2 separate regions of the Homo sapiens genome follow, and region 1 is linked to region 2. Evidence: fine-mapped expression QTL. A gene starts in region 2. The other region holds a variant in brackets. All regions are shown on one strand. Distances are from middle to middle.

Region 1 (5,000 bases), 100 kb after region 2:
AAAGTTTTCTCTCATTTCCCTTCTTCTTCCAGTGGTCTAATACCTTGCTATTCAATTTTTTTCATATGGTTTCTGTTTCTGCCCTTAAATAGCTATTTTTTTTTTCTCTCCCTGCAGGTGACACTGATCCCAACTCATGACTCAGAAGTGATGAGGGAATGGTACCAGGAGACCCATGAGAAACAGCAAGATCTCAACATCATGGTTTTAGCAAGCAGCAGCACAGTGGTTATGCAAGATGAATCCTTCCCTGCATGCAAGATTGAACTGTAAAAACCAAGGCCAGCCACACCACAGGATCTGAACTTTGTTTCCAGAAATTCTTCAATTTGAAATCACCTTTTCTAAAAAGTCAATTCATCTAGTTAAGTCGCTGAACAATTACCTGCCAAATGCTATACTGTGTCATGGTGATGCAAGTCACTAAATTTCTCAGTTTTTGCTGATTGCTAAGGGAAATAACAGTATTTCCACAATAGGGTTCAAATTCCTGCAAAATTACCTACCCCAGTTCATCTCTGCTGAACATTTGGAAACCATGCACTAGCCAACCCAACTGACTTCTGCTAGGTAGAGGCATTTGTCTTAGAGAGAGAGAGAGCGCGGGAGAGAGTGAGAGAGAGTGAGAGCACAAAGATAACGCAGGAGAGAGAGAGAGAAAGAATGAGAAAGAAAAGGAATGCAAGAGAAGGAGATGTAATGACAGAGAGTTCTGGTGAGATACCCAGAGAGAAAAAGAGAGAGCAGGGTGGGGTAAGGAGGAGAAAATAAACCAACAATTAGGTCTGCATTTTCTCAGGCAGTAGGCATTCTTTAGTCTACATAGGCAAAGTTTTCCATTTTTGTCAGTCTGAGTCATCAAAAAGAGTCTTAATTTTCTAAAACAAGTTGGCTAGAAGAAAGTAAAAAGAACAACACTTGTTATGAGGGCATGTGATATTTTCACATCTTAATTAAGCTCCTTCAGTTTGAAGGCTGCACACTGACATAATGTAGTGAGTGTAGACTGGCCATGCAAGTGGTTTGGGCCCCATTCAGAACTCTCAGACTCTAAACACACAAGTAGATTGATCTAAGGCATGCTCCCAGCATTTGTCCACCCACTTAGTCCACTCTGAGTCGATTAACCTGCATGCAGCAACACCCAAGTCCACCCCAATTAACTGAAGCAAATACCAAAGCAGTTGGGAGTACATATGGTAGACAATTTGCCTTAGGAAGTGACTTGAATGTACAAAGATACTTGATGCACTTATTTTTTAATGTGAGACAGCAAGTTTATAAAACATCCATATAGGATTATAGATACTTAAAGGAACACGTGGGTGAGCGTGTGTGGGGGTACTAGAAGCTGATCTGATTGGTCCAACAGTTTGATGCTGAGTCATGCGTGTTGAATCCCACTTCAGTGCACCTGTGGCCTCTCAGTCAAACAAGTTGTGCCTTTCACAGCTTCTTTACTACTGCAAGTTCAAGACTGAAATGGCTTCTATGATCAGAACTGGGAAAACAGTGAATCTTATGGTGGAAGAGGTTCTCAGCAAGTGTACAGTATTTACCTTCCTTTGTCTTACATTGGCTTTTTAAATTTTCCATTAATTTCAACATAATTATGGGAACAAGTGTACAGAAGAATTTTTTTTTTAAGATATGTGAGAACTTTTCATAGATGAACTTTTTAACAAATGTTTTCATTTACAGGAAATTGCAAAGAAAATTCTCAAGTGATAGTCTTTTTTTTTAAGTGTTTCGTAAGACAAAAATTGAATAATGTTTTTTGAAGTTCTGGCAAGATTGAAGTCTGATATTGCAGTAATGATATTTATTAAAAACCCATAACTACCAGGAATAATGATACCTCCCACCCCTTGATTCCCATAACATAAAAGTGCTACTTGAGAGTGGGGGAGAATGGCATGGTAGGCTACTTTTCAGGGCCTTGACAAGTACATCACCCAGTGGTATCCTACATACTTCTTTCAAGATCTTCAACCATGAGGTAAAAGAGCCAAGTTCAAAGAACCCTAGCACAAATTTGCTTTGGGATTTTCTTTTCTGGAAAAAAAAAATAAAAGAAATAGTACATTGAAAACAAATGAATTCTCAACTCCTACGGTTCATGTAGAGTTTAGAGAAAATTTCCATCATTGTCATCATTGAACTGTGAACCTGGGAAGCCAGATCATGATTAACACTGACATCAAGTTTCAAGTTGCAGATCAATGCACCCAGTGTTCAGATGAGGCAAACTTCTCCGTGACAACTGTGCTGTGCTCTGTCACATTACATTTCCTGCAGACTCTAAGATCTACGGAGTAGAGAACAATGACCTCATTTTATTTTCTATGTTAGTTATTTATTTCAAAATTAACATTTTAGTTGATTTTTGTCTGATAAGTCTATGTTTTGCACTGCTAACTATGATGAGGGTTTAAAAAAATGCTTCTTCAGGGTCCTTTCACTGAGGACCTATGCAGTCTACTTAATGCTGTGAATTACATTTTTCAAATGTTTAATTTTTTAAAGAAAATTAATATTCTATTTTTGTTAGGCTTCTCTAGAAATGCAGCTTTTATTTATTACCCCATTTCTTTCAAGTCCTTGGAAAATAACATATTAAGGGTACAAGAAATTAACACATGATGGAAAAGTCATTGTGACGCCAATGAATTTCATTGAGTATAAACTCATCTACTTCAAATTTATTTTATAACACAACCTAAGATACTCAAGATAATTATTTAATGGTTAGCTCTTAAGTTGAATTGGTCTACATAATGCGTGGGAAGAAAACCAGATTTTTAGCCTTCTTGCCAAATCCAGACCTCTGGTTGATTTTTCTTTGACAGAAGATGCAAGTTATTTTCCAATTTCACAATTAAATGTATTTAACCTGAACATTATTTTGCTTTAAAAACTATAAACATTGTAGGAGAATTATAGCCAGTCTTCAGTTATAACCACTCCACCCTCCTCACTTTCTCTCTCTCTCTCT[CTTTTTTTTTTT/C]TTTTTTTTTTGCTATGGGATTTAATGGGAAAAATATGTAAAAACTGTCACTAGTCAGCTGGCTCTTTTTCCTATGAAATCTATCAGTACCTTTCTCCATCCGTTGTTCTCAATATGACCACAGAGCCTGAGTATACCAAGAAAACCAATATTCGCATTACAGGTTGCTCCTGTCCTTCCAGACACCTTTCCTGCCTGTGTGACTAACCTAATTTTGCTAGTTCCATAAATACACGATTAGTTTAGTAACAGCCATCACAATGTACCATGTACATTCATGGTGAGAGCTAAAGATCGACACAGACTTCTAGGAGCTTTGTTCATACTGATTACTTAATCCAATTGTATAGATTGAATATTTGAGTGGAAGGAATTTACACTCTGTTTAAATGATGGGATTCTATCGAGATAGCACTCATGATCATGACCTTTTTGGTAGTATTCTTAAACAAAATTCTACAGAGACTAAATGTTAGCGATGATCCTCCATTTTCAATTTTAACCAATTCTGTCCCCTTTCTCAAAACCCTGAGCCCTGTGCATGCTTTCTCAGTCTTGTGGTGGGACTGGATACAATGACTAACTTCCCCTCCTCCCCTCTTTAAACACCATTTTCCATGGAGTTCAAAAAAATTTTTTTTCTTAACGTTACATATCATAGTGAATGGTTTCCCCAGTGTATATGAATGTTTTAAGTGTCTCCAATAGCTTATGCAGTCTAGGAGCTTTCCAATACTCATTTAATTAAGATTTAATCATTTGCTAATGGAAATCTTACCACCTTTCATTTTCCCTCTGTTACCAAATTTCAGCTCTTAGGAGCTGCTCTACAATTCTGAATTTGCTTTTCTTGCCTCTCTTTAGTCACCTGTCACAGGAGGTTCCTGCTCAGTAATGATATTGTGAGTTAGGATAATAACTTTTTTTTTTTGTGCTTCAGATTTAGAAGAAAAGATCCTGTTTCCATTTGAAAGGAACTGTAAGCTTTTATCTTTTAACCAACTGAACAATACACCAAAAGCAGCCTAGGGATGAGCATTTCTTTGAAAGCAATTAGGTTATTCACCTGGTATTAAAACTATTTACTGTTAAAAAATCTGTGACTTCATGAAGTTGATTTTTAAAGGCAGCATCAAAAACTGAAAAGGAAGGGAAAAAATAGGCAGCTTCTCTGCACTTGTTTGGAGCTCCCCAAAACAGGAGCCATGGAGAAGTGGCATCAAGACCGGGCTGCCCTTTCGAGAACACCCTGTGGCAGTTCAGAGACACGCTTTTCCTACACTGCATGCAGCCCCTCTTTCCAGCACTGGAAAGAAGTGGTCTTGAGCCCAGCTGAGAAGCACTTCACACTCCTCTCTCTTGTTCTGAATGGTGTTTGTGTCAGTCTGCAGCTGTGTATGGTATTATGTCTTATAATCCTGCATCACTTCTATCCTATCCAGTCATATCTAATGTAGAAAATTAGTTTCCAGTGAAAGTAATATGTAGTGCTTTTATGATATTTGTGTGCAATATCCCCTCTTCCATTGAGGATATTTGATGTAAAGGAAAAAAAAAAACTCAGTTCCACAATAAAATACAAAAGTGGCAAAAGTTCATGTGTGTGCTGTGCTGTCTTTTGCTTTGTGTTCCTGAGTTGGGCTTTGCCACTCACGCAGAATGCTGGGCAGTCAGGGCATGACGGCAGGGGGTGACTACGTTCTTTTCAAGATGGGCTCCCTGGCTTTTGGCAAACTGCCGAAAGCATCTTGCTAATGCTTGCAACTGCTACCTCGTTAACTTTTATAGCCAAGCTCTAGAGGATGTGAGCGTGTAAGGACAGAAACTGGGAGGTGAAGGGAAGGAACAATTAAAATTATTGCTTAAAAAAAAGAAAAAAAAAAGGATAGCTGGGTGCAGTGCTACATGCCTGTGATCCCAGTACTTTGGGAGGCCAAGGTGGGAGAATCATTTGAGCCCGGAAGTTCAAGGCTGTAGTGAACCATGATTGTGCC
Region 2 (5,528 bases):
TCATGGGATACATGGTGTTATGGTTCATTGAAATAACAAGAATGAGAGAGGATCCCGTTTAGAGGTAAAAGATGATTTGGGTTTGGAGCATGTCAAGATTCTGGTGCCTTTGGTATATCCAGGTGATGTCAGTTGAGCAGCTGGCAATATTGGTGCTCTTATATGTTAGTTTTCCCCCTTTTTCCTCCTTAGAACTGTATACATTTTCTTGGGATGAAGAGGGGAAGGGGCTACTTTTCTAGTATTGAAGTATAATAATGTAATATTCTGTTCTTGTTTCAGAGGTGTTGTAGCAGTATCACTTGCACATTTTATAAGACTGCTTTTGCTCCATTGTCTTAGTAACTGGGAGAAAACAGGTCAATGAATCAACCATCCCTTGATTGCTTACTATGCCCAGCCACTGTATTAGGTGCTTACACATTCTATCATTTCCTTCTTTCTTACAGTTACTTTAACAGTTATAAAGATGTTCTTCTTCTCATTAAATAAGGAGATGGAAGATCAAAAAGAGTAAGTCACTTGCCAAAGTTACCGAGCTGTAAAGTAGTATTCTGCATCCCTAGTCTGTGTTCTCCCATTATGCCTCTATTTTTCAAAGTGTGGGTGATGACTTAGGTGGTCACGGTCATGGTGTTTAATTGCACAGACACACACAGTAAGAAAGCGCTCTGTTATAATTTTCATCCAATCTTCTGTTGCAACATGGAGAACAACTCAGTTAGGTGTTAGTATCTCTTTAATACCTCTCTAACACTTGGCCAATCTCTGTTTTCAACCAAGAAAGGAGAGCCTTGGACTCAGAGTCTTGAGCAAATCATAACAGTATGTAGCAGGAATTTGATCACATCTTATCTTCATTGTGTATATTTTTAGGGATACTTTCTATTAATAAGTGATATTAGTGTTTCCATTTATACAGCAACATAGAATTGCATTTAAAAATAAATTTAAGTAAAAGAAATAAACTGCATAAAAGAAAACTATTACATACATAAAAGTAACAATGGTTCAAAGAAAGGAAAACCAAACACAAACTAGATGAGGCTGGAATCCAACGGATGACCTTTAGAAAACAGTGCTCTTCACCATATTTCCTGCCCCTCACCCCAGTTATGGGCTTTGGTGCTGGCCTTACTTCTTGAACAGCAATTGAATATCTTAACCAAAATATTATCTGGAAACACTTCATCTAGTTACTGGTGAATGCAGCTAGTTGGAAACACTTCATCTAATTACTGGTGAATGCAACTCTCTAGTGATCCTGTCACAGATCCCAAATACTGCGGGCCAGACGGTATTTTCATTCTGCATTGATCAGATTGACATGTTGGATGGAACCCCCCAGCCCTTGGCTGCCCAGCATGTCTCCCATGCCAGGGTGTCAGGAAAGATATAAGAGCAAAGAGTACATGACCAATAAGTCATGGCAGCTAACACCTAAGACACTGGGTTATTTTGGAAATCTTAAGAATATCTAGGTGATTATCTATCTATCTATCTATCTATCTATCTATCTATCTATCTATCATCTATATTTTACTAACAGGCATTCTAGTATTAAAGCTATGTTGACTAATTTCCATCTATTCCTCTTCCTTAAAGCTCGAATTCCCCAGTCTTCTATGATACCATGTTTGCACATTTTGCTCTTTCCTCACCCTCCTCCCCTTTTCTGGGACAGAAGCTATATTCAGTATGTTTGTGAGAAACGGTTGTAAATAGGCTGCCTTAAAAAAAAAAACAAAAAAACAAAAACAAAAAACACATTTTTTAGTTCTTCTAAACACAAACAAAGGCAATAAAAATTCCCAATGCTACAGGTATTTTAAAAGACATCATTGTCACGAGGTAATTTTGCTTGTGTGTTCCCCAAGGAACTGAAAAGTACATTATAGTCACTGTAACCCTGCTGAGTAGAGACAGTATCTTCTCTTTATTCTTTGTTATTACTGATACTATCTGTTCAGCACATTAAGGAAAGAAATTGGTATCTAATATAATACATCTGCATTTCTCTCATTTCCCATGAGCACCACAAAGCCAGTACTTTTTCATCCTTGGCCCTGCCAGAGTAGAATCCAAGGCCTGAACAATAGTAGGCTTAAGTTTTGCATTTTTGATGTATTCTTTAAGTGAAGGTGGTAAATATTGATATTGGTAAATATCAGTAAATTCGTCTTCTTAAAGCCACAAGGTCAAAGAAAAGACAGGTTCCGTCTTCCTAGGCGGGGTACCCACAGCCCCGCATCTGCCCACTGTGGCTATCCCAGTTCCTGAGAACCTGGCTACATCATACACAGCACACAAGGCAGAGGCCTGACTAGTGCAACTCCAACAAGAGAAAAGACCCCCACTCCGAAAATGGAAACTCATCCCATTCCCATGCACAGACAGGGTGAGGGTGAGGAGTGGGCAGTGGGTGTGTACGTGGTGGGTGGTGTAGGTTGAGAGCGTCTTCCCCCTTCACGGCTGCAGCAGGAGCTCAGCGGGCGCCCCAGCCCCTTGGCTCGCGGCCCTGCCCCGACCATTGTCCGCACACCTCGTCCCTCCAGCTTCCGGGCCGCGGGCGAGATGATTTGCTGCAGATGACATCAGCCCCGGGCCAACGGCTGGAAGAGCGGAGGCAGCCACCGCGTGAGGATGTGCCGGGTGGTCCTTTCCTCCTCCTCTTCCTCCTCCTCCCGGCTCCCTGCCTAGTCTCCATATAAAAGCGGCGCCGCCTCCCCGCCCTCTCTCACTCCCCGCTCCTCTCCGCCGCGCACTCTCCGCGGCGCTGGGAGAGGGCGGAGGGGGAGGCGGCGCGCGGCGCCAGAGGAGGGGGGACGCAGGGGGCGGAGCGGAGACAGTACCTTCGGAGATAATCCTTTCTCCTGCCGCAGTGGAGAGGAGCGGCCGGAGCGAGACACTTCGCCGAGGCACAGCAGCCGGCAGGATGGCGACCGTGGTGGTGGAAGCCACCGAGCCGGAGCCGTCCGGCAGCATCGCCAACCCGGCGGCGTCCACCTCGCCTAGCCTGTCGCACCGCTTCCTTGACAGCAAGTTCTACTTGCTGGTGGTCGTCGGCGAGATCGTGACCGAGGAGCACCTGCGGCGTGCCATCGGCAACATCGAGCTCGGTAAGTGGCCCCGCGCCCCCAGAGACGCGCGCTGGGAGACGCGCAAACACGACCCCACCCAGGGCGCGACGGTCACTGCGCTCCTCCCGCGCGCCCCGCACCCATGCCTCTCCTCGTCACCTCTCATACTTGGTCCAGACCCTTTCTGGGCTAATTAAGAATAATCCGAATTATTAGATATGAGACCCAGAGGGAGAGTCTCCAATAACCTTGAGGGATCTGTCACCACGCTGAGTCCGCAGCCTGTGCTGAGTTGGCCACCGCCTCTCCCGCTAAGTGAAATGCAGGTGTCAGGGGAGCAGAGGCCACAATAAAGCCGCAACCGCAGGAGGCAGAAGGGTGGGGGAGACCTGATGCAACCACTCCTTTCAGTCCTCTTCTGGCCTCAGGAAAAGGCTGGGACCCCCACCACCGCAGACCTGGGGCCGAAGCCCATGTGCCAGGGCCCGCGTGGGATTCATCCTCACCACGGCTACCTCAGCCCCTGAGAAACGCCTTTTCTGATTTCAAACCTCCCGATCCTTTCTTTCCTCAGAATGACTAGGCTAGTCCTAGGGCCACGCCCGCTCCCCCCGCCCCCCCCTCCCCGGGGAGATGCTGGGATGCAGAACCGCCTGCGCTTCGCCACCAGACAGAGCCCGCCTCGCTACCGCCCTTGGGGCCTTGGCTGCAGCTCTCAGAAAGGACAATGGGACCCCAAGTTGCGGGGTGGGGCTGCTGCTTTTAGAAGTCCCAGCCTCGGGAGTGGTAGCTTGAAGGGGGTCGGTGAGGGAGACGTCAGCGGGTAGGGTCAGCTCCTCGCCCGGTGCTCGCACCAGTGGCGCGCTCTGCGGAGGCCGAATAGCGGTACGCCGGGGACCCTGGGCGGGGCCGTGAGGGTCCGGCGGGCACAGCCTCGGGCGCACAGAGAGACCGCCCCCAGCCCCACCCGAGCTGCCGCAGTGCCTCCGGACCGCCCGCCACACCTGCCCCCCCACACTGCGGCGCCCCCGTCGGGCACGGCTGGCTGGGCTTGCGCTCCGCCCGGGCCTCGGGCTGGCGGGGGCCGCGCGCCCCCACCTCTCAGTTTGCCTGGCTTTGTTGCCCTGGGAGTCCCTGGGTGGGCAGCTCTGGTCTCTGCCTTTCCCTTTATCCCTGGCGTCCCGGCCCTCCCCTCGCTCCTGACAGAGGTCGCCGGGTCCCTCCGCAGCCCCAGCCCGCGCTCTATTCTCCTGGGGTGGTGCTGAAGCGTTTCTCCGGGAGACACCGGTTGGTGGGCGTGGTGCAGTCCGCACTGCGGTCTCTACGGCAGCCCGAGGCGGACAAAGGGCGTTCACGCAGCCCTCGTTCCCCACTCCCCCTCCCCAATAAAAGACGAAAGAAAAACCTTGTTTTAGATGAAAAAATAAATGCTTGTCATCTGCCTCTGCAGTTGGAAACGGCCACTTGTCCCCAGAACAAAAGGCTGCAGGGTGGGGACTGGAGTTGCAGACCTGGTTCTTTTGTTTAACTTTAAAGCACTTGATTTTCCCTTTTAGCTTAAAAAAAAAAAAGAAAAAAAATGTGAGCAGAAAGTCATAGTATTTTATTCCAAAAAATTCAAGAACAAGAGATATTTCAGTAGTGAAATGTCTTATTTGAGCATCTCAATAACCCTTCATTTTCAGACTATATAGGCCTTTGGTCTAATCTGTTCTAATTTAGTTTATTTGCACAATTTTCTCCTGGAAAAATTTTACACATACTGACTTTGGGTGTGGCTATTGTGGGAATCAATGACTTTGGATTTTTTTCTTTAAAAAATTATTTGTAAGTAGCATTTCTGGGAAATAGGAATATATTAGGAGGTGCTTTTCTATCTACAAAATCTTCATAACCATTCGATGTGGTGGTGCTAGGAGAGGGATCATCAACCCCGTTTTAGAGCTGGGGGCCCAGAGAGGCAGGAAGGGTAAGAGAACCGGCTCAAGGTCACAGCACTCATAAGTGACAGAAGTACCAGTACTGCAGCGTCACTCGTTTTCTGACCCTGTCATGATGTTAGTGCAGGGTTGGCTAACATCCTATGATGGGAGGAAGGTTTCAGTACAACAGTTTTCAGGGCTTGCCTTTGTATGGCCATCCACTTGTGGGCAGCGCCCCATGCTGGGAGATGGTTCAGCAATCACCTTCGGATCGTAATTATCTTCCTGCTTTGTTACTCATCTGATCATCCTTTCAGCGCCCTATTCCTCAGAGGGTTTATACAAGCTGCATCTATTTATGGAGAAAACAGACGCATCCACGTACTGCTATGAAGAAGGGCTCCCTGCCTTTACTCGTTTTTACACTACTAGCACTTAGTGACAAAATTCAGATTTGTCTTCTTGACATTAATTTTTTAAAAAATTCGGTTGAAGTATTATATAGAGAGGAAAGGGCACAAATCAA

Alleles and levels. Positions count from the first base shown, and alleles are read on the strand shown. Sizes are in standard deviations (SD) of each study's normalised expression.
For the expression in iPS cells of the gene that starts at base 2,879 in region 2, CTTTTTTTTTTT is the low allele of the variant in region 1 and C is the other (large effect, 0.76 SD a copy in PhLiPS).

What was found. PIP is the estimated chance that this variant, and not a neighbour inherited with it, causes the effect.
Region 1: its variant is the best candidate, but not a certain one, in a credible set for the expression of MAP1B in iPS cells (PhLiPS, PIP 0.70).

The regions. Positions count from the first base shown.
Region 1 is chr5:72,204,967-72,209,966 of GRCh38, forward strand. It overlaps MAP1B (microtubule associated protein 1B), which reads left to right. Exons shown (of 7, transcript NM_005909.5): 7 at 118-4,599. The coding sequence ends at 273. Among named protein-coding and RNA genes, the nearest start is that of MIR4803, 38 kb to the left of the region's middle. The variant CTTTTTTTTTTT/C (reference allele first, on the strand shown) is at 2,996.
Region 2 is chr5:72,104,597-72,110,124 of GRCh38, forward strand. MAP1B (microtubule associated protein 1B) reads left to right here and starts at 2,879. Exons shown (of 7, transcript NM_005909.5): 1 at 2,879-3,119. The coding sequence starts at 2,936. It overlaps LOC105379028 (a long non-coding RNA gene), which reads right to left. Exons shown (of 3, transcript XR_007058813.1): 1 at 4,179-5,528; 2 at 3,329-3,391. RefSeq lists enhancers at 2,798-3,780, 4,186-4,480.